Linked DNA regions of Homo sapiens. The protein of the gene in region 1 purifies or fractionates together with the protein of each later gene. This does not show direct contact. Each region holds a gene or a part of one and is shown in the gene's direction. Other genes may lie near its edges.

Region 1 (6,070 bases):
CAGGTCACACGCCAGCCCAGGATTTTTTCTTTTTTCTTTTTGAGACAGAGTCAGTCTTGCTCTGTCACCCACATTGGAGTACACTGACGCGATCTCAGCTCACTGCAACCTCCGCCTCCTGGGTTCAAGAGATTTTCTTGCCTCAGCCTCCCAAATAGCTGGGATTACAGGTGCACACTACCACGCTCAGCCAATTTTTGTATTTTTAGTAGCGATGGGGGTTTCTCTATATTGGCCAGGCTGGTCTCGAACTCCTGACCTCAGGCGATATGTCTGCCTTGACCTCCCAAAGTGCTGGGATTACAGGCCTGAGCCACCGCCAGCTCAGATTTAACGTGAGAGGATATCAGAGACATAGTTCTTGCCAACCACCCACAGACCACCACCCCCATTTTATAGACAAACTGAGACGGCTGAGCAAGGTGGATCCTACCTGTGATCCCAGCACTTTGGGGAGCCGAGGTGGGAGGATCACTTGAGCCCAAAAGGTCGAAACCAGCCTGGCCAGCATAGCAAGACCCTCTCTCTACAAAAAATAAAAATCTTAGCCAGCCATGGTGGTGCGCACTGTGGTCCCAGCTACTCCGGAGGCTAAGGTGGAAGGATCATTTGAGCCTGGGAGGTTGAGGCTGCAGTGAGCTATGACTGGGCCGCTGCACTCCAGCCTGGGCCACAGAGCCAAACTTCGACTCAAAAATGTAAATAAAAATAAAAAACAAGTGAAAGGTGAACATTCTCAACTTGATAAAGGAAAAAAAATCAGTCGCTGAGGTTGCTGGGATCGACCGAAGACACAAACCTTCTATTCCCGCAAATGTGAGAAGGAAAAAGAAGTTAGAGCCGGCTTTGCTGTCGCCCCTTCCCCTTGAAGAGTCGGGGCCAGTGCGTGACGAATGCTGCTGTAAGTCTTTTAATTTTTTCCTTTTTTGAGACGAAGTCCCACTCTGTTGCCCAGGCTGGAGTGCAGTGGCGCGATCTCCCCTTACTGCAAGTTCCGCCTCCCGGGTTCAAGCGATTCTCCTGCCTCAGCCTCCTGAATAGTTGGGATTACAGGCATCGCCACCACGCCCGGCTAATTTTTCTATTTGTAGTAAAGACGGGGTTTCACCATGTTGGCAATGCTGGTCTCGATCTCCTGACCTCATGTGATCTGCCCGCCTCGGCCTCCTGCTGGGATTACAGGAGTGAGCCTGTATCTTTTTTATAGAGATGGGGTCTCGCCATGTTGCCCAGGCTGGTCTCCAATCCTTGGGCTTAAAGGATCTGCCAATTCGGCCTCCTTTGCTTTTAAAGAACTGTGGGGGCTGGCGAGGTGGCTCAGGCCTGTAATCCCAATACTTTGGGAGGCCGAGGCAGGCCGATCACCTGAGGTCAGGAGCTTGAGAGCAGCCTGATCAACATTTAGTATTCTCTACTAAAAATACAAAAATTAGCCGGGTGGGGTGGCGCGCACCTGTAATCCCAGCAGGAGGAGGCTGCAGTGAGCTGAGCTCGCGCCACTGCACTCCAGCCTGGGTGACAGAGCGAGACTCCGTCTGAAAAAAAATCAAAAACCGCTCAGGGAAAGGCCTGACACTGATGGAGCGACCGCTCCGGGGCTCCCGCCACCCGCGGCTGTTTCCGGTGCCCCCCGGGGTCTTGGGACCCTCCCAAGGTGGGTCCTGCTCTAGTTCAGAAGCTTATGACGCCTTTGCGGGGATGCCTGGCTTTGGGATCGGTTGGGATCTGCTGGAATTGGGTCCGTGGCGCGCAGCTCCCGGGCTGGGAGGTGCCGTAGGACCTGGAAGATTCTCGAAAGTTCTGGAAGGTTCTCTCAGGGATCGCCGCGGGCGGGGGAGCCTGTTTTCCCACCGAGACCCGCGAGGGCGGTGTCCGGGGTCTGACTGCAGGACAAAGGGCCGGGAGCGCGGGAGGGCGGCGCCCGGGAGCGGCCACACATGCCCCGCCAACCGGTCTCCTCAGGCAGCACTCCCGGGAAAAAGGGGTAGACGCGCGGCGGAAGGGGCGGGGCCGGCGCGCGGCCGTGGACGCCGGAGAGGGCGAGGCCGGCGCTCCTTGGGAGCGCGCGCGTCCCATTGGGCAGCGGGCGGAAGGGGGCGGAGCTTGGCGCCGCCGCGAGGCAAGCCCCGCCCCCGGCCCCGCGGGGAGCGGCGGCGGCGGCGGCGGCGGCGGTGGCGGAGGCGGTGAGCGCGGGCGGCGCGGACGGCAGCGGTTGGCGGGCGGGTCCTCCGCTGTTGCGGCCGCTGCGGCCTCCTTGCCCGGGCTTGGGGCGCCGCGCTGGGGAAAGCCGGGGGCCCGGTGAGCCCGCGGGATGCGTCCCCTCGGTTCCGCCGGGCGGGGCTGAGGCGAGGAGGCCGGGCCTGGGGGGAGGGGGGGCCCCGGCCTAGAGACTCCTCCGGGAGCGCCCGGTCCCTACCGCCGTGGGTCCCCCACTCTGCCCGGACCCCCTTTTCCGCCCCTGGCGCCGTGGGCCCCTCACTTTGCCTGGACTCCTTTTCCCGTCCCTGCCGCCCGGACCCCATCTCTTGCTTGGACCCGCTCCCCCATCCTTGCTGCCTGGACCCCTATCTCCTTCCCTGGATCCCCCTCACGTCTGCCGTGAACCCCATCTCTTGCCTGGACCCCCATCTGCTTCCCTGGATTCCCCACCCCCAACCGTGAAATCCCCCATCCCTGCCACCTGGACCCTCCGCTCCACCTCCTCCGTGAGCCCTCGTTCTTGCTCCCTGAGCCCCCCCGCTTCTGCTGTGACCCCCTTCTCTGTTGCCTGAATCCCCCGTTCCTGCAAGCCGCAACCCTTCCTCCGCCATGAAATCTTGTCCCTGCTGCCTGGACCCCTACTTCTGCTGCTGCTGTGATCCCCTCTCTTGCTGGAAACGCCACCCCTACCTCTGCTGGGAACCTCCTCTTCCCTGCTGCGGGGACGCCCCCCTCCGTTGTTGCTAAATTCCACCCCCACCCCCAAACCTCCTTTTCATTTCTGTCAACAGCCAAGCCAGTCCTTCCCATTGATGCTGTGAACGGTCTGCAGCTGTCCCCGTTCTTTCAGGGACATGGCAGCCAAAAGAGCAGTCGTTTTTCCGCTCTTATTTTTGTGTGTGTGCTGTGGTCAACTGTTAACTCCCCAAATTGGGGAGGGTTGTGAGCTTTGATTGTGTAAAATGCCTCTCCTGCCGAGGTCGGAGGCAGGTCTTCCGCACGGAGATGATTTATTCAGGAGCCTTTTAAAACTGATCTAGATAGAACCTTTGGGAGGGACTGTGCTGTATTTTATTTATGAAAAAATGCAGGCGCCTCCCTGGATACCGAGCCCCGTCGTTTCTGTTTGTCAGTCTGCTTTTTGGCATTGAGCATCTCAATGCAAGATTGTGGAATTAAACCATCTACTTGAGGCTAAGTCGAGCTAACCTTTGCCCCTGAGGGCTGTGTCTGCGTTAACATCGCCAGCAAACAGTTGTATAAACCACCGTGCAAATTTCGTTCCAGGACACATTGGCGTGAGACCTGGGAGTACGTTGTGCCAAATCATTGCCACTTGCCACATGAGTGTAAATGATGGCGGATGCCAAGTATGTCCTCTGCCGATGGGAAAAGCGATTATGGCCTGCGAAGGTGACAGCCATTATTCTGTAACTTCAGGACTTAGAAATGACTTTCGGGTGACAAGTAAAATCTTGATCAGGAGATACCTAGGATTTGCTTCAGTGAAATAATTGAGCCAGAACACGGTTGGCACTGATTCTCGTTCCCCATTTAATGGGGTTTTGGTCTAGTGCTTCCAAGGTTACACTTCCAGAAATGTCTTTTTTTTTTCACACTAAAAAAAAAAAAAGAATCAGCTGTAAAAAGGCATGTAAGGCTGTAACTCAAGGAAAGATCTGGCAAGCAGCCCTGTGATAGTAAATTATGGTCGTGTTCAGGGAATGCTTTCCAGCAATTCAGTAGACAGTGCTCAGCTGCAATGCAAAAGCCCAGGTCCTTGTCTTTGTCTGCCACTGGCCTCTCATGCCTCAGTTTCCCCATCTGTGAAACAATGGGGATTGGACCAAATATCTGAAATCCCATGGTTATAGGCCTTCAGGATTACCTGCTGCATTTGTGCTAAAGTTTGCCACTGTTTCTCACTGTCAGCTGTTGTAATAACAAGGATTTTCTTTTGTTTTAAATGTAGGTTTTGGCCCGAACCGCGACTTCAACAAAAAATAAGAGAAGAAAGGAATATTTTCTAGCTGTGCAAATCCTCTCTCTAGAGGAAAAGTTAAGTGTTGTGTTGTTTTAATACTGTTTTTTCCCGTGTAGATTTCTGATACTTCAATCCCCTACTCCCCCAAAACAGTTGAAGCCCAGCCCACTCTTAATGGGCTTATTCACCATTTGTGTAATTCATTAATGCTCATAATAACCTCATGAGAAAGCAACTAGTTTGATTTTATGTCAGTTTGGAAGCTGAAGATCCAAACGAGGCATTCTGTGAGATCTATGGAGAGATTGGTACAAACACTGAATACATGTAAATTATACTCAGGGTAGACCCTATTTGTGGTTAAAATAGGGATATTTCCTTTTTTTTTTTTTTTTTTGACTGTTTCTTAATCAGTGCCATGCCAGGAAAATAGGGATGTTTCCTTCCCAGAGATCTGTGTGTCTTTTTTCAGAAACGTCTGTGACAGGCCCATCAATTTTGAAATATTTGGTTTTTGAGCCTGTCACTCTAAACCAGCGTTTAACGTTCAAAAGGCAAATAACTGATGACCAGGCGGCACATTGTTCTGCTCCGTGAGTGTCTGGCACTGGGAAAGGTGTAGATTGTCTAGAATGACAGCAATTCCGACGCCCCAGTCAGTCCTGCGTGATTGTGGCGAGGGCGCGTCTGGCACCGGGAAGGTGTAGATCATCTAGAATGACGGCGATTCCGACGCCCCGGTCAGTCCTGCGTGATTGGCGAGGGTGCATCTGTCGTGAGAATTCCCAGTTCTGAAGAGAGCAAGGAGACTGATCCCGCGTAGTCCAAGGCATTGGCTCCCCTGTTGCTCTTCCTTGTGGAGCTCCCCCTGCCCCACTCCCTCCTGCCTGCATCTTCAGAGCTGCCTCTGAAGCTCGCTTGGTCCCTAGCTCACACTTTCCCTGCGGCTGGGAAGGTAATTGAATACTCGAGTTTAAAAGGAAAGCACATCCTTTTAAACCAAAACACACCTGCTGGGCTGTAAACAGCTTTTAGTGACATTACCATCTACTCTGAAAATCTAACAAAGGAGTGATTTGTGCAGTTGAAAGTAGGATTTGCTTCATAAAAGTCACAATTTGAATTCATTTTTGCTTTTAAATCCAGCCAACCTTTTCTGTCTTAAAAGGAAAAAAAAAAAAAAACCATTCACCAGGGTTCTTGCTGCCTGTAACCTCAGGCAGATGAATTCCTAGTTGGCTGTGACTTTTGGTTTAAGTGGAAGGTTGAGGAGGAAAATGAAAATAATTCTTTTGTTATCTAAAGGAAAACATGTTTGAAAATGTCTTGGCGGCGTTGGCTGGTGGTGTGTAACGTCGATTTTGTCTCTGCAGAATTAAGGTGAAAAGCACTGAAGTTGAGATCCTAGAGAAGTCTCAAATTGAAGCCATTGCTTCCTCGTTAGGTAAGAGCGTATTTTTAAGTGGCCACTAGGTTTTCATAAAATAAGAGGTCATTTGGGAGAATGTGAAGGCTCAGCTTTCTGGGTAAAAATTCACCCTGTTCACCATGTTTTTCTTCATACAAGGGAACGCGAATCCCCTGAGCTGAAGGAGAAGGAAAAATGGATCCGCTTTCTTAAACCTTTCCAGAATTTGCCCCTAGAACCACTCCTATTCTTGACGCCCAGAATGGTCAGTGGTGAGCATCAAGGTCATCTCGTACCCCCGTGGCCTCCAGTACACAAGACGAGGAAGGACTTTGCTGCCATAAGGGGGGAGGTCCTCCTTTTTCCTTTCCTCTTCCTATAGTAAGATTTGCTGTGGTACTGTCGCTGCCTGGCCAGTCTGGTCTCAGCCCAAGGTTTGAGAAGCAGTTGGTTGTGTGTTTAAAATTCCAGAGCAGAGC
Region 2 (5,633 bases), on another chromosome or scaffold:
ATGAATTGCCTGCAGGGTACAGTGGAGATGCTAATTTGTATTAAGCCAGCCTTTGGGATCCTGCCAGGGTCACCTGCTCCGTCTTGGGTAAAGGAGGTAAGCAGGAGGTCGGGGCAGAGGGGAGACCTGAAGAGGATGCTGCCACAGTGGGCTCAGGATGGAGCCAGGGGTGTGCAGGGGCCAGCCTAGGACACAGGTCAGGGAGCTCTCATCCAAGACGGGTGACAACGGGACCACGGCCTATAAAGCAGATGACTCACCATGCAGCCAGAAGGCGACGAGGCCAGGAGGGGCAGGGTCTGGGCCTCTTGCTGTGTGGGGTGGGCTCTGAGGCCACGCCATGGCACAGGGGCAACCCCCTGAGATTTCAGGGGGAGAAAGCACCAGGGTGTGACCAGGTCTAGGGTGTAACTGAGGGAGGGAGGAAAGAGCCACAGACAGGACTGGACAAGGAACTGAGAGCCGTGGCCACGCTGGTCACTGGGAGATGGCAGGGCCTGGGCCTCCGGGGAGCCTTGCTGCGGTTCGGCACTTCCCCCATGCTTTGCACAGATGGCCGCCAGCACTCCCCACGCCACAGGCCAATAGTTTCTTTCAGCACCCGCCTCTGGCCCAGATCCGTAAGTCCCTAGAAGCAGGACACATCCTGTCCCTACTCGGACCCCAGAATCCAGCCAGGAGCCAGGCTTGTGAGGGTCTGACCTCATGGGTGGGTGGGCACTGCCAGTGTCCTGTGCTCTCAGGGCCACAGTGACTGGCAGGTGGCAGCACTGACCCCCTCCTCCCCCAGGTGCAGGTGGGAAGCACACCTCAGGACCAAAGAATCGTCGGGTACATCGCCTGCACACACCTGCATGCCCCGCAAGGTAGGGTTGCCGCCCACCTGTGTTTTTTCTAGGCATGGGATCAGTGCCTGGGGCCTAGCTGGGGTCTGGGGCGAACTTCATCATCCAGTCTCTGTACTTCTGCCCTGCAGAGGACAGCGCCATCCGGTGTGGGCAGCTGGACCTGCTTCAGGACTGGCTGGCTGATTTCCGAAAATCTACCTCCTCGTCCAGCGCAGCCAACCCCGAGGAGCTGGTGGCATTTGACGTCGTCTGTGGAGATTTCAACTTTGATAACTGCTCCTCTGGTGAGGCCGGGCTCCTCCCCACTCAGGTCTCCAGCTCTGGGGAGGCTGTGGGCTCAGTCACAGCTAGACAGACTTCGTTAGGCAGCTCAAAGAATTCCTGCTCCTCGAGAGCATGTGGGCGGGGTATTTAGCAAGACTGATTTCTCTGCCCCCTAGAAATCCTAGAACAGGAAGAGCCCACGCTCTGCCTAGAAAGCTGGAGACAGAGATGCCCTAAAAACGAACCTCTGACAAGGAAGGCTGGGGGCCTCTGAAGCAGACAAAGGACGAGTCCACTAGTAACACCCATCAACGGGGCGCCGCGCTCTTGCTTCGAGCCAGCTGCCATTCTATCGCTGTTTCACTTAAGTGTCTTAACAACCCTGAGAGGGAAGCATTGCATGTCTCCACGTGGTGTGGTGGAGGAAGCTGAGACTCAGAGAGGCTGGAGAACCAGCCCAAGGTCACATAGCCAGGCAGTGATTGCACTGGGATCTGAACCCTGGGAATTGCACCTTAAACCATTAGGGTGAAAGACTACAAGCTCGTCATCAGTGAAACAGCAAACACTTGCTGTAAATAACTGATCTGTGGATCCGATGACCACATGGACCTTGTGGGGACCTTCCTTCCTCTGTCCGAGGACCGTGGTCACTGTCACTGTCCTCAGAGGGAATGCTGAAGATCAGGGCGTGTGCTGGGGGAGGTGTTCTCAAGGACACAGAAAAGCAGCGACAAATGAAGCACGGGGCACCTGAATGGGACTGAGATCCCACCCAGGGGCAGTGGCCTAAGGGATGGGGGCCTGGCAGCACATGGGGAGTAACTGATGGGAAGCAGGGGCACAGGCCGTGTGGGACAGCAAAGCCCCCTGGTGCCTCAGCGTTTCCTCCCTCCCCGCACAGACGACAAGCTGGAGCAGCAACACTCCCTGTTCACCCACTACAGGGACCCCTGCCGCCTGGGGCCTGGTGAGGAGAAGCCGTGGGCCATCGGTGAGCTGGGGCTGGGGGAGGAGGATGGGAGCTGGGCTCCCCACAGACTTCCCTCAAAGATCACCAGGACCTACCCCACAAGACCCCACTGCTGGGGAAGGGCCCCATTCAGCTGCCCCTGGCTAGCAGAAGCCCGTGTCCACCCACAGAGGCCACCCCCTAGAGGCTGCCTGGGCCCTGCCTGCAGCGACCACTGTCACCCCCTCGTCCCCCCCAGGTACTCTGCTGGACACGAACGGCCTGTACGATGAGGATGTGTGCACCCCCGACAACCTGCAGAAGTAAGCACTGCGCTCCCAGGCCAGGGACGAGGCACACCCTGACTAAGGTGGAGACAGGGACTGGGCAGGACCCACATGGGAGAGCTCAGCTCGGGCTCATGAGGGCTTTTATTTGGCAGAAACCTGTCCCTCATCTCACCTTTGAGAGCTTTTGAGAGCTGGGAGCTGGGCCAGGCAGGTAGACCTCACGCCCTCACGCCCAGGGGTACTGGCCTTGCTAAATCTCTAGGGGTATTTCCCAAACCTGTTTTCAGGAGCTAGCCCTGCCCCGAGCCCCTGCCTGCTGGGTACAGGAAAGGGCCTGGAATTTCCCCCGGGCCAGGCCACAGGTCGACCCCCATGAAAGAGCTGCTGGGTACGGCGCCTGCTGAAGGCAGCCTGGCAGCTTGCAGCACCAATCAGGCAAATACAGACACCAGCTGCAATAACACAGCCGACCATTTTCAAAGTAGAGACAGTTCCATCCCAGCCAAAATTCATTCTTGAGCCCAGTAAGATGTCCATAAAGAACACATCTGAGAGGCCAACAGCAGAACCAATTTATAATTCACAGCCCGAGACTGCAGTCACAGCGATGGTTCCTTGCAGCTAATTTGAGCCAATTAATTAGATTATAGACTAAATTTGAAACATCATCCTATGCTGAGAAAATTCTTTTTATGAGATGATGATTTAAAAATGACTACCAGTAGCTCTCAGATCATTGATGCTGGAATTAATTATCAAGGGCAAAGGACAGTGATGGATTCCATTTCTGAGCTGTAACAATGTCCTGAATGTCATTAGTGTATTTATCTTAAGGCTGATGAAAACCTTGTGGAAGCCCATGTTTGCAGGCCCTGCCTCGCCGGGTGCCCCTTTTGCATCCGTCCAGGCACTCACAGACCTGGCGGCCTTTGCAGGGTCTCTCACCACTGCACTTGCCATCCCAGGCCCTGGCCCCAGCCTGCCCTCTGCAATGGGGGCTCCCAGGAGGGGGTCCTAAGCCTCTGGCCCAGTGGTGCTGAGGCCCCAGGGGACAGGCTGGCAGGAAGCAGACGGGCATACTGCTTGTCTCAGGGCAACAGTGCCAGAAAGGGATTCCAGATGTCACATCCCCCTGCTCCAGCGCCCTGCCCTCCCTGTGGATCCCCTAGCACCATCATGGGTTTCCTCACTCAGAAGCGGGATGACAGCCTGTTCCCTGAAGCGTCTTGGGGCCCACAGCAACCATTCTTGTTTCAGAGGAGGAAACAGAGGCTTGGAGGCTTGGTAACATAAGCAGAGTCACACAGCCACGTAGGGACAGCCCCATTTGAGACTCCTCAGAGGTGCTCTCCTGGCTCCCTCAGCTCCTGTCAACCTGGGAACAGTCACAAGGGTCCCCGAGACTCATGGCAAAGACCAAGCTCCTCAAAACAGGCCCCTGTTGGCTCAGGGCAGAAGCCCATTCTGGGGAACGGGTGGGATCAGTTCTGTCCGAGTTCAGAAAGGGAAAGTGAGTGCTGGCCAGGCTGGGGCGGACAGAACACTTCGACGGGCTCCGGAGCCCAGATTCAGCCAGGAACCCACAGGCAACTCGGCCTACCCCCAGCTGAGGCCCTTTTTGGACCCGCAGGGGAGAGATCTTAAACCCAGCGCTTTGGTCCCACCCACCCGCTCCCACACTGGGAGGAGACCATGGCTCCACACACAGCCCCTGCCAGGCCCACAGGGGCGGGCATGGGGGCCCACCTGCCTCCTGCATGTGTGGACAGGGTCCTGGAGAGTGAGGAGGGCCGCAGGGAGTACCTGGCGTTTCCCACCAGCAAGAGCTCGGGCCAGAAGGGGCGGAAGGAGCTGCTGAAGGGCAACGGCCGGCGCATCGACTACATGCTGCATGCAGAGGAGGGGCTGTGCCCAGACTGGAAGGCCGTGAGTCAGGAGGGCCCAGCAGCCAGGGCCATGCAAAGAGAGAGCAGGGCCCGGGCCCTGCAGCTCTCGACAGCCGCTCCCTGAAACCCCACGCCCCAGGCCACTCTTACAATGATACCCATCACTCCCTCAGACCCTTAGGGCCCCAGGTCCTCCAGGCCCCATCCCTCTGACTGCAGGAAGGTCCCAGCCCACCCCAGCCCCGGGGCCTCACTTTGGGGATCCCCAGGCCGCTCCCTGCAAGATGCCCTTGGAATCTGACCAGGCTGTTTCTCCCCTCTCCCACTCACCCCAGGAGGTGGAAGAATTCAGTTTTATCACCCAGCTGTCCGGCCTGACGGACCACCTGCCAGTAGCCATGCGACTGATGGTGTCTTCGGGGGAGGAGGAGGCATAGACCGTCCGGAGCAGCGGGGCCTCTGCCAGCCCTTGCAGCTGCAGCCCATCCCTGGGCCATGTCCCCTCCATCGAGTGCCCGGTGCTTGGGGGAGGAGGGCAGGGACAGGGAGGGAGCCACAGTCAGTGCCCGGGAACCTGGAAGCTGCGCTGCTCTGCGCCTCTGGGCCTCACTGTGGACAGAGGAGTCAGGCCCGCCCCAGGAGCCTCCAGCTGCCTAACCAGTGCCATTCTTTCACAACACGATTTTCTACAAATCTACAGCACAACCGAGTTTGTAACCCGTGGGTTAGTATGAGGACCGGGTTCGTGTACTCTCTGTATCTCCTCTTAAGCTTCGTCCAGGGTTCTTTATTTTTGTCTGCTGCCAATGTCGTCTCGCATGCCTGCACCCTCGCATGCACGCTGCCCGCATGCCACGTGCCACGCTGTAGCCACAGACCCCTTGCTCGGGCCTCACCCAAGGCCAAACTCCAAACACAATCAGAACCAGCCAAAGAAGCACTTCCTGGGCACGGCCACCAGCTCTCCCGCCTCCAGTGTGGGCCGGCTCCTGCAGGGTCCGAGGGCTGCATCTCTACCAGCCAGCCCAGGGCTCTTCCCAGGGTCTCGCATTCAAGGGCAATTACATTTTAAAAAGAAAAACAGAAAAAGGTTAATCACAAAACCAACCCTCACTTCACAGGGTCTGTAAGTCACTCATAGAACTTTGCTCTTCCCGAGACAGGGTCCCTTCCCCAGCTCAGGCACAACAGAGTCTGGCAGGCTCTGGCACCCTGGGCCTCCTCCGGGAGCCTCCCATCTGGGCAGTGGAGCCATAAACGGGGATCCGAGAAGAGAGTATCCACTTTTTTTTTTACAGGAAGAAGGGACTCACAGCATAAACGGGGGTGGGGGGGATCCTGATTTTGAAAATAATCTATTTGTAGCTTCTCTTCTATCAAAACCAACACATCC
Region 3 (5,633 bases), on another chromosome or scaffold:
GATCATGAACTCCATAAAGTCTTTTTCCGACTGCGCTCAATGTGGAAGCCTGGAAGTATACCTCGTGGGAGGCTTCAGTGATGTGGGAGGCAGTTGTCACAAAAACTCACTCATTAACTTCTTAGTGAATTTGACAGGCAAGAAGATGACATTCACTTAGTGATACTATGATTATGTGTGACAGAATTAAATGACCAGGAAGAAAACGAATAACACTTTCTAATAATATATGGCATTGCTGTCAACTTAAGACTGCAAAGATTTACAGAGCCTCCTTTCTTTTTTTTGTTTGAGACAGAGTCTCCTCTGTTGCCCAGGCTGGGGTGCAGTGGTGTGATCTCGGCTTACTGCAGCCTCTGCTTCCAGGGTTCAAGTGATTCTCCTGCCTCAGCCTCCCAAGTAGCTGGGATTACAGGCGCCCACTGCCACACCTGGCTAATTTTTATATTTTTAGTAGAGACAGCGTTTCACCATGTTGGCCAGGCTGGTCTCAAACTCCTGACCTCAAGTGATCTGCCCACCTCAGCCTCCCAAAATGCTGAGATTACAGGCATAAGCCACCGTGCCTGGCCTACAGAGCCTCCTTTCAAGATCGAGGTCCAGAGGAGCAGCTGCGTGCCGCGTGAGCTTTAGCAGGAGGACCAGTGATTAGCATTTACGATGCAAAGACAGAACAACTTCGTATAGGACTGTACTCCTGGACACCATTTCCACATGTGGATTTCTGCTTGCAGCAAGATGACAAGCAAATACTAGAGAATCTTTCCACTTCGTGTCTGGCCGAGCCACCCCACTTTGTTGAACATATTAGATCTACCTTGATGTTTTTAAAAAAAAATACTGCTCCAACTAACACACTGTTTCCTGGAAATAAAGCCCTACTCTACAAAAAAAATGAAGATGGCTTGTGGGAAAAGATCTCTTCTCCAGGAAGCTAAAAAAATAGGAATTACCAAAGAAAGCAGAACCTTCTTGGCCTGACAGAGACCATTGGTGGGGCCAGCAAGAATCCAAATTTGGAACCTACATCCATTGGGTCTTAGGTCTTCTCCTTCCTTCCTCAGTGTTTTTCAAATGACTTTCAAAATAAAACCTTATTTTGGCAAAGGCAAAAAAAAAAAAAAAAAAAAAGGAAAATTAATTAAACCCTGATCCCCCCAGGCATCCATTGTGATGAATTAACTTCCTTCCTATGCATCTAGAATGGGACTACAGTATTTCTGTATCATTCTTAGGAAATAGAAAAAAATAGTTACTTACACAATTTTTTTGTAGGGCTTAATTTTTAGTGGAACTCCCAATTGAGAAAGGTTGCTTAGAGCATAAGTTGCATATAAACATGTTAAGATACTTATTTATTTTTTACCACAACCTTATGAGTTAAGTACATGACTTTTCCATAAAAGAGAAAAAACTCAGTTGTGGTAAGAATATAGATCTTGCAACCAGTTCAAGGTCATTAAGCTGTGACTTGAATCCTGGCAGTCTGGTTTCAGAGACCATGCTCTTAACCATTACAAATATTTGAAAATGTGTACCTCACACATTACTAAACTGAAAGCAAAAGTGTGGGTTTATAGAAAAGCATAAACTAGGAAATCTTAATTTTTTCAAAAAGAGTCCTTTTAATATGAACATTAATCTGTAAGATTTCTTTAGTTGTTTTCAACAAAATAATGGATAAAAGGAGGAACAGTTTCTTTATTCTGTAGTTTATATTCACATAGTAAATATAAATTAGGGAGATTCAACATATTTTACATTGCACATAATTATTCTATTAATATTCTATAAACTGTTTATTTTTCCTTTGGTAAGTACAGATGGGGAAGTTGAACAAAATCTGCATACAAGAAGACTTTCTAAAAATAGAAAAGACTTTCTAAAATCTGCATAGAAGAGACTTTCTAAAATTACATTTTTTCTAAAAAACTAAAATGCACTTTTCTTCTTTAGGAAAGAATGACTTTTATTCAGTATTCATCTACAGTTTGCCAAGAAAGTACTTCCTTATCCATTTTTCCTTTAATTTGGAAGAAACATTAAGAGCTATAGATTAATTTGCAAGATTAATTTGCAAAATTAATCCATTTATGTATTTCATGTTTTTTCTCATCTTGATAGACACTTACTATAAATGTCTGAACCATACAAAATAGTAACATTAGTATAAGTCATTAATAGTGTTTTGAAATGAATTTAATCAAAGAATCAGGAGGAAGAAAGTTGATATTATAATGGGAGAACTGAAACACACAGTTGCATTTTTTAAAAAATCATGGCTTCTTCAGCAAACACAGTAAAGCACTTATTGGTGTTTAGAAAACAAATATGATTTATTTTTCTCATTTCTTGTTAGAAAGCAATTGAACTGAACCCTAAAGATGCTACTTCAATTCACCTTATGGGTATTTGGTAAGAAAATTTCTTTAAATATTTCAGTAGTATTTAGTGTGATATTTTGTAGTATGTATAAATATCTTCTTTTGCATATATAAAAGATATTAAATATTTTAAAATATTATCTGACAGAGCTTAGAGTGCTAAATCCATTAACTAGCCCTTGTATATATATTGTTAGAACATACTAAATTTGATTATGACCATGTTAAACATTGTTATTCAGGTCATTTAGAAACATGTACAGACTGAAAAGACTATTCTTATTTACCATGCTAAATGAAATTAGATTAATGTAACTATAGTAAAACAGTAGAATGCCCCAAGAGGGTCTTTGTATCTTCAAAGTGTGTCAGATACAGTCTTGATTAATCTGAGGAACCATATAATCTGATTTTCAGTATCTTTCTATTTTTATGTGATCTTATGTCCACTGTAGATTATTATTTTGCTGGTATGAGGCTTTATCAAAGTGTTACGTACTTGATGGTTTAAGAGTCTGTTTTGAGATAGATGGGACACTCTTTTGAGTATAGCCTGCAGAGCTGAATATTTACTGCCATCTAAGAAGGGTACCAGTGTAAACTGTCCTGTATCAAACTCTTTTAAAAGAGAAATATATTCTTCAGGATAAAGGACATATTAAGCTAACACTCATTCACTGAGGATTAATGATAATTGAGGGGCAGTCACTAAGTCAGATGCTAGTAAGCAAACCCAAATGAAATAGCAATTTCTGCCTTAAGGACTTCAGACCCTAGTCAAAGATGCAACACTTTCTTTCCTACTTATTTCTGAAAGTTGTAAAGATCTTTGGAGGTTAATCATTTGCTTTGCTGCTTTAAAAATAGATTTAAGTTGTTGGTTGCTGTTATTTATACATTTGATGTTTAGCTTTGTCATTTTTCTTGTGTAAGGTTTAACTTCTCTGAGTTTTTCTTATAAGAAAAATAGGGGAAATTATCCTATCTCATATATAATTGTTACAAGGAATAAATGAGAGAATCAACCCACTACCTGGCACAATGCACTCAGTGGTAGATGTATATTATATTACTGTTATTAGTATGACTGCTTACTATTTATATTTAATCACAAAATACACCCCCCAGCTAAAGGATCACTATGTCAATCTCTGGATTACCTAGTAGATATCATGTAAAGCACAAGTTGTTTAAACATACAGTAGAAGATTCCTTTTATAGTATTAAGATGCTTAGTTAACTTTAAGAGAAAAGAAGGTACAATTTGAATGTATAAAATTGTTTTATTTCCCTGTAGGTGCTATACATTTGCCGAAATGCCTTGGTATCAAAGAAGAATTGCTAAAATGCTGTTTGCAACTCCTCCTAGTTCCACCTATGAGAAGGTAGTATGATGTCCTTTGTTAAGTTAGTACGGATTTCTTAACCACAGCGCCATTCTACCATGTGTTCACACATGTGGAGCTCTGATTCAGTGAGGGACTTGAGCAATTTCTAATGATCCAATTCAACTGTGTTATCACAAGGCTTAACACTTATTATCCTTGACTGGTGAGTGGTTTTCTTTTTCCCCGTTAGGTGAGTGGCTGGTAATTCTGGAATACTGTCATCTAAAATGGCTCGTGGCTAAAATCTACCTTCATTTTCTGTTTGAAATCTAAACTATATTGAAGTCATAAAATAGAACAAGAAATACAGCATCTGTTACCCAGCATGTTTTAGCTGTATTACACACAATAACAGAAAAGTAAAGCAGATGCTTAAGTTGATAAAAGAAGAACACTCATTATAACTTCTATTTTAAAAAGCATATGAAAGGTTCATATTCTCTCATATTTTCAAGGCCTTTTGCTTTTCTTGTTAAAAATAAGATTTGAGAGGAATTTCTGGTTAAACTTTGGGTTTACTCATCACAAGCTTTTCAGAGTAAGAAAACAGGCAATCGAAAAAGCTGTACTTGTATTATTTACATTATAACAAGGAGCTTTTTTTTCTTTCTGGGAAGCTATAGTGTAGAAATTGATGTAAAAAATACTTAGTTGTATTCTTTACACACAGTTGAGAAATATTATTAAAATAATGCACCAATATTTTATAATGGTATTATTAAAATAATGCCCATTTGCTGGACACGGTGGCTCATGCCTGTAATGCCAGCATTTTGGAAGGCCAAGGTTGGTGGATCAGTTGAGCCTGGGAGTTTGAGACCAGCCTGGGCAACGTGGCAAAACCTCTGCAAAAAAAATACAAAAATTAGCCAGGTGTGGTGGCCTGTGCCTGTAGTCCCAGTCACTCAGCTAAGCTGAGGGAGAAGGATCACTTGAGCCTGGGAGGTCAAGGCTGCAATAAACAGTGATTGCGCTACAGCATTCCAGCCTGGGCAACAGAGTGAGACCTGGTTCTTTTTTTTTTTTTTTAAGACAGGTCATTTTAAGGACAAAAAATATAGTCAGCTCTACTTTATCAAATTAGTTATGTTTCTAGAAATCAAATGTCATTAGAGAATGCATTACAAAAACAGTAGCTTAAGTAGGACAAAAAGAGTTTCAGACTTAACATTGTATGTAGGAATTTCAATAATAATGGACTCTTAAAAATTCACTAGTACAACGAATAAATTCAGCTTTTGATTATATTTTGTTTTTACTAAAAATCACTAGTTATGATTTAAGAGAACTGTCAAAATAGCTGAGTTACACGTGATAATGTTCTTTCCTTTCTGCACATGATGTTAGTTTGGTACAAGTTCTAAACAGCAACCAAGTTATTACCAGAAGTAGTCCATATATTGTAATCTTGATGATTGAAGTGTTACGTTCACTTTGGGTGTTAACTCTCACTGTTGAAGAAGTGACCATTATTTTAAGATGATTTACTTCCTGACTTAAATATAATATAGCAGTAGATCTTTGAGACAATGCTTTTTTAATATTGTCTTCTTTAATCTTTTTTATTATGTTTGGGCTCTTTGTGTTTTTGACAGGCCTTAGGCTACTTTCACAGGGCAGAACAAGGTAAGGTATTTTTGATTACACATATTAATATAGTTAAAATTGTATGAATGCTGAATATATACTATAATAGCAATGTCTAAAGCAGTTGTTTATTCTGTTATACTTATTTTTGTGCTAGATACTGTAAAACAATTTTTAAAGTCTTTATTCAGTAAAGATCACCTGAATGAGAAATAGGCTGCTATTGAACTTAGAGCTGCAGTTCTGGAATGTCTATCATTTGATGTAATTCTGC
Region 4 (5,633 bases), on another chromosome or scaffold:
GTAAAGAAGAGTATCTTTAGGATGTTATCCTTATGTGCCAAATTCAGATTTACACTTTCTTTCCAAGAAACTAGTCCTAGTTTAGGGACTTGAATATACCAAAACTCTAAATTTGATTCACAGTTTGAATAATAGCAGTAATTTTACATACTTAATTTAAACCAATATTTCTCTTTCTCAGTCCATGTTTATGAGGCAGATATGGTGTAGGAAAACACGGAATACTTAAAAGATGTTTGAGTTATTGAGAAAGGTAGGATCAGTTTTTGGTTAAATTCCTGTGACCAACAACTGTCATATTTCCAAGAGCAACTTTAAAAATTAAGGTCGGCCAGGCTTGGTGGCTCACACCTGTAATCCAAGCACTTTAGGAGGCTGAGGCACGCAGATCACCTGAGGTCAGGAGTTGGAGACCAGCCTGGCTAACATGGTGAAACCCCATTTCTACTAAAAATACAAAAAAATTGCCGGGTGTGGTGGTGGGCACCTGTAATCTCAGCTACTTGGGAGGCTGAGGCAGGAGAATCGCTTGAACCCAGGAGGCGGAGGTTGCAGTGAGCTGAGATCTCGTTATTGCACTCCAGCCTGGGCGACTAGAGCAAAACTCCATCTCAAAAATAAATAAATAAAATAAAAATTAAGGTCATCTGGCCTTAATGGATAAATGTTGATTTGAAATCCAGGACACACTGAAGTTCCAGATCAATAGTGCCTAATTTCAAGGGCATCACTGACATTTTTTTGGGAACAAGTTCACCGAGGGACAGTTAATTAACTGTTTATGTAGTCTTTTTGTAGCTCCCTGTTCCACCGTGAGATAAATCAGAACAAGGTCATTTTTCCCCTCAGTTACTGACTAGCTGACTTCTTTTAAAACCTTTCCTATTCATAAAATATTTGTATAAGTAAATTTAGATTATGTTGATAATTTGTTACATTAAAATTAACTTTTCGTTTATATCCCAAACCAGCATAATTTTCAAACTGTTAACTGAAAGAAGACCTCATTCAGCACTCTGTCTTTTCTTTTTTCTTTTTTTTTTTGAGACAGGGTCTCGCTCTGCCGCCCTGGATGGAGTGCAGTGGTGCAGTCTCGGCTCACTGTAGCCTCTGCCTCCCAGGTTCAAATGATCCTCCCACCTCAGCCTTCCCTGGGACTACAGTCATGCACCAACATGCCCGGTTAATTTTTGTATTTTTAGTAGAGGCGGGTTCTCACCATGTTGCTCAGGCTGGTCTTGAACTCCTGGGCTCAAGCAGTCGACCCACCTTGACCTCCCAAAGTGCTAGGATTACATGAGTGAGCCCTGGGTGCCCAGCCTGTCTTTTCAAAGATGTTATTACGTGTCTCTGGCCTAGTTTGAATTACCTTTTCAAAACGATGAAGGAGTGAATTAATGAATGCATATTCATTCATGTTTGGGTCTGTGTCTTGATTCTTTATTAAAGAAACGTCGCTTCAAGGCGAAAACATAGGCAAGAAATGTTGCGTAATGACGTTTTTATTTTCAGAGATTTCCTTAGAAAGTCATATTAGCTCCAAAATTAAGAAAAAAAAAAATCACAGTTGAGCAGCCAGTTGTGAAATCTTTCAGGGAGCCATAATCATAACTATCATGATTATTTTGTTATTTTTAACCGTGGCCAAACAGATGGATTTAAATATGCGAGTCAAAGCTGTTAGGGTTACTGTCTCATTTTGATGCAGGGTATTCTTTGCTTTTTTGTTTGTTTGTTTGTTTTTGAGACAGAGTCGCTCTCTGTTGCCCGGGCTGGAGTGCAGTGGCGTGATCTTGCCTCGCTGCAACCTCCACTTCCCGGGTTCAAATGATTCTCATGCCTCAGGGTCCCAGTTAGCTAGGATTACAGGTGTATACCACAACGCCTGGCTAATTTTTGTATTTTTAGTAGAGACGGGGTTTCACCATGTTAGCCAGGCTGGTCTCGAACTCCTGACCTCAGGTGATCTGTCTGCCTCAGCCTCCCAAAGTGCTGGGATTATAGGAGTGAGCCACCACGCCTGGTTATGCAGGGTATTCTTTGTGAATAAAGGGAACAAAATGTCTTCTGGCCAGCATTTTCTGTTCAACCAAAGGTGGATAACTTCACAATTAAATCAGTTATCAAACTGTCCAAAAACTGCTCTGGGCTCTTGTAATTCAGTGCATCAGTAGTGTGTTATGTCAGTTATTTTTCAAATTTATTGCAGTGCACGTCAGAACCTTCTTCCTAGTAAAAAACAAAACAAAACCCTACAGCTTTTGTCATATATGTCACTGCCGCAAAAATTGATGCTGCGTTAAATGGAGCTCATAAATTTAAAACTAAACTGAATTATTCCACCCTACAAAATACATAGAATCTTTCTTTTACACCCTTCATTTTAGATATAATAATTACTGATGCTCAATTGGTGTTCAGTGATAATGTTTCCAGAAGCCAAGTGGTGAGCATTTTTTTTCCACTTCAAAAAAAAACCTAACATACCAGACAACTGGATTTTAGATAAAAGAAATATGGGTTCTTCTAGGAGTTTTAAGTTTACGCACTTTTTAGGCAGTTTGGGGGAGGAGGAGAGAGAACCTGAGGTAAATACGTACCAGTCTAAACCCACTGGAGAGTGTCTATTTCTGAAAGGTGGGTTTGGACTCTGAGTGGTCCAAGTGGATGTGTTGTCACAGTTTGTGAGTGCTCTTTGGTTATGCTTCTCCCTGGAACTTGATGGGACTCACATTTTGACTGGCCCACACACACATCCTTGTTTTTGTTGGCAAGTGTAATGAGTTCAGAATAGAAAGATCATGTAGTGGTTTTATGTACAGGGGTGCACCTAACAATGTCCATGCCTGAAGGAATTGTATAAACTCAAATTGCACTGAGTATCCGTCATTCTGGCCAAGGGTCATGTCTTAAATATGGATCATGTAGGAGGAAGATCAAGTACCACCATCACGTTTGGGGCTGGCCCTAGATTTTATGGACACCCTCTGGACTCCACAATAGGCCTGGATATTTTCACCTCTCCTTTAATTTAGGGAAATTATTCATTTGACATGAAAAGACAAGTTCAGAAGAGTAGGTATGCTCATTCTTAGTGTGTCTTTGTTAAGAGGTGAAACTCCATTTCACCTGGTGAAAGAGGTACTAAGGCTTTTTTCAGTGGCAAGTCTATTCCTAAAGAAGTGGCCAGGCTGGACGCGATGGCTCATGCCTGTAATCCCAGCACTTTGGGAGGCTGAGGTGGATGGATCACTTGGGGTCAGGAGTTCGAGACCAGCCTGGCCAACATGGCAAAACCCCGTCTCTACTAAAAATACAAAAATTGGCCGAATGTGGTGGCGCATGCCTGTAGTCCCAGCTACTCAGGAGGCTGAGGCAGGAGAATTGCTTGAAGCCGGGAGGCGGAGGTTACAGTGAGCTGAGATCACGCCACTGCACTCCAGCCTGGGCAACAGAGCAAGACTCTGTCTAAAATAATAATAATAGTAAGTTGCCAAATTTTAATTTTTCCTTTTAGCAATAATAGCTGAACTCTTAAGAAGTGGCCAGATTCTTCAGGCCAGCAAGGTAGTTTTGGGGAAGAACTAGGTAGGCCCATTGGGAAGAGTGTGGACTCTTTTATGGTATGCAGTAATACTGTACCATATCACTAAATGTACCTGTGTTTTCTTGTATTTCCGTGCCTAGGATCAAGCTCACTGATGTCCTTTTGCTGGCACTTTGTTATCCTTCTCTTCATCCATAGTACTCTACACAAATATTATCTTACTACCACAGAATTGCAAAAGTTTTTCATGAGGAAAGTTTATTGTATTTACTTTATTTAGAAAAAATGAAAACAAGGTTGAAACTCTGTGGTCTACTTTTTTCATCTAGTGACTTGACAGGGCGGCTGCTATTGCATAAAGAATGCCTTTGCAACCGTTATCTTTTTCTAAAGATGCTGCCTCTTATAACAACACAGTATAGAATTTTCTTTTGTTTGCATTGGAATTTGAATACATCTACTTTTTCTTGTGAATGATGGAAGAGTCGAATGAACCTGTGGGTTCTCGAAATTAACTCTGGGAAGTGAGAGGGTGGAAGGGAAACAGTGACGACTCACAGGAGACACACTGGTTGAACCTGTGATCTTGCCAGGGCCATTTGTGTGAAGTCACCTGAATCTCGGTGTTTTTCCTCTGGATCAGCTGCCTGGATGGTTTTGTCAAACTTTCAGATCCTTCCATCCTCCACCCCCATCAATGTGTGACTTTGCATAACTGAGAAAGCTACTAAACACAGAATTAAGTTTCTTTTATTGTTTTTCTCTACTAAGGGAATTTGATTCTCTAGGATGACTTGCACTTCATGTGGGAAAGACACAGCTGGATGCCCAACTGATATCCATTCCCCCCTCCTTTTCTGTAACTGAACCCATTTTGTTTAATTCACCACTATGTCCAGTTAAGTGCTAGATTTCCCAGAATCCCTTGCAGCTGGGAGGTGGTTCAGTGACAGTAGTCCTGGCTGATGAGATGTAAATAGCTGGATGCCCCGTTCCCCAAAGCTCTTAAAAGGGGAAGCCTCTGTGAGCTTGCCTGTTAAGCCTTTTGCTCTTTGTACTTCTTCCCTGGAGAAAGTAAGCAGGCCATCGCGTGACCAAAGACAAGATGCTTGAGGGTTAAGGATGAGTGGGTGGAAGGTTAGAAGGAGGCTGAGAAGCTGATAGCATTCTGCAACTGCTCTACTGGACCCATTTCTTGACTCTGTGAGAAAAATAAAATCTCTACTTGGTTAAACCACAGAACTTGGGTCAGTTACTTGCAGCCAAATGTGATCTTAACTGAGTCTAGATGTCTAAAAATCATAGTTCATCTTTTCTTTAAAAATAAAAACGTGTTATTTTGTACGAGAAAAACAGGACTTTGGAGCCATGCAGATCCTCAACTTGAATCCTGGCTTTGCTATTTATTACAGTCTAATATTGGCAAGTAACTTAACCTCTCTGGGTCTCAGCTTTCTCATCTATAAAATGGTAGCTCTGATATATGTGCCATAGCATTTTTTGAAGGATTAGAAATAATTAGAAATTATTATTATTTTTTTTTGAGACAGTCTCGTGCTGTCACCCAGGCTGGAGTGCAGTGTTGCAATCTCGGCTCACTGCAACCTCCACCTCCTGGGTTCAAGCGATTCTCCAGCCTCAGCCTCCCAGGGAGCTGGGATTGCAGGTCCCCACCAGCATGAGCAGCTAATTTTTTTTTTTTTTTGTATTTTTAGTAGAGACAGGGTTTCACCATCGTGGCCAGGCTGGTCTCAAACTCCTGATCTCAGATGATCTGCTGGCCTCAGCCTCCCAAAGTGCTGGGATTACAGGCATGAGCCACCACGTCCGGCCAGAAATTATTAATAGGAATAATAATGGCATATTCAGCACATGGAAGATCTTCAACAAATGGTGGCACTGTTACCAAAGGGAAGTGTAGTGGGGAGTCTGAAAGGGGGAGGCAAAGAATTCAGCTCTTTCTCCTAGAAGGTTCTCGGTAGGTTTATAGCTACAATCCCTTGACTCCATCTACTTGGCATTTATTCCGCCTCCTGTCTCTTATCCTCATTCCCACCTGCCCACACCAGACTACTTGGAACTCTTC

Evidence for each region.
Region 2: the proteins of PWWP3A (region 1) and SMPD3 purify together in Homo sapiens (affinity purification with mass spectrometry; one large-scale study listed by BioGRID and IntAct). This does not show direct contact.
Region 3: the proteins of PWWP3A (region 1) and RMDN1 purify together in Homo sapiens (affinity purification with mass spectrometry; one large-scale study listed by BioGRID and IntAct). This does not show direct contact.
Region 4: the proteins of PWWP3A (region 1) and PPFIBP1 purify together in Homo sapiens (affinity purification with mass spectrometry; one large-scale study listed by BioGRID and IntAct). This does not show direct contact.

What each region holds. Positions count from the first base shown.
Region 1 is NC_000019.10:1,352,838-1,358,907, forward strand, and holds the start of PWWP3A (PWWP domain-containing DNA repair factor 3A), read left to right. Parts: upstream 1-2,121; 5' UTR 2,122-2,298; intron 2,299-3,486; 5' UTR 3,487-3,555; coding exon 3,556-3,612; intron 3,613-4,171; coding exon 4,172-4,257; intron 4,258-4,581; exon of another isoform or gene 4,582-5,138; intron 5,139-5,556; coding exon 5,557-5,627; intron 5,628-5,750; coding exon of another isoform or gene 5,751-5,773; exon of another isoform or gene 5,774-5,814; coding exon of another isoform or gene 5,815-5,867; exon of another isoform or gene 5,868-6,070. UniProt on the Homo sapiens protein: Involved in the DNA damage response pathway by contributing to the maintenance of chromatin architecture.
Region 2 is NC_000016.10:68,360,250-68,365,882, reverse strand, and holds part of SMPD3 (sphingomyelin phosphodiesterase 3), read left to right. Parts: intron 1-790; coding exon 791-866; intron 867-976; coding exon 977-1,132; intron 1,133-2,016; coding exon 2,017-2,106; intron 2,107-2,323; coding exon 2,324-2,387; intron 2,388-4,123; coding exon 4,124-4,280; intron 4,281-4,575; coding exon 4,576-4,677; 3' UTR 4,678-5,633. UniProt on the Homo sapiens protein: Catalyzes the hydrolysis of sphingomyelin to form ceramide and phosphocholine. Ceramide mediates numerous cellular functions, such as apoptosis and growth arrest, and is capable of regulating these 2 cellular events independently.
Region 3 is NC_000008.11:86,477,059-86,482,691, reverse strand, and holds part of RMDN1 (regulator of microtubule dynamics protein 1), read left to right. Parts: intron 1-2,359; coding exon 2,360-2,415; intron 2,416-3,681; coding exon 3,682-3,769; intron 3,770-5,367; coding exon 5,368-5,398; intron 5,399-5,633.
Region 4 is NC_000012.12:27,526,223-27,531,855, forward strand, and holds part of PPFIBP1 (liprin-beta-1), read left to right. Parts: intron 1-5,633. UniProt on the Homo sapiens protein: May regulate the disassembly of focal adhesions. Did not bind receptor-like tyrosine phosphatases type 2A.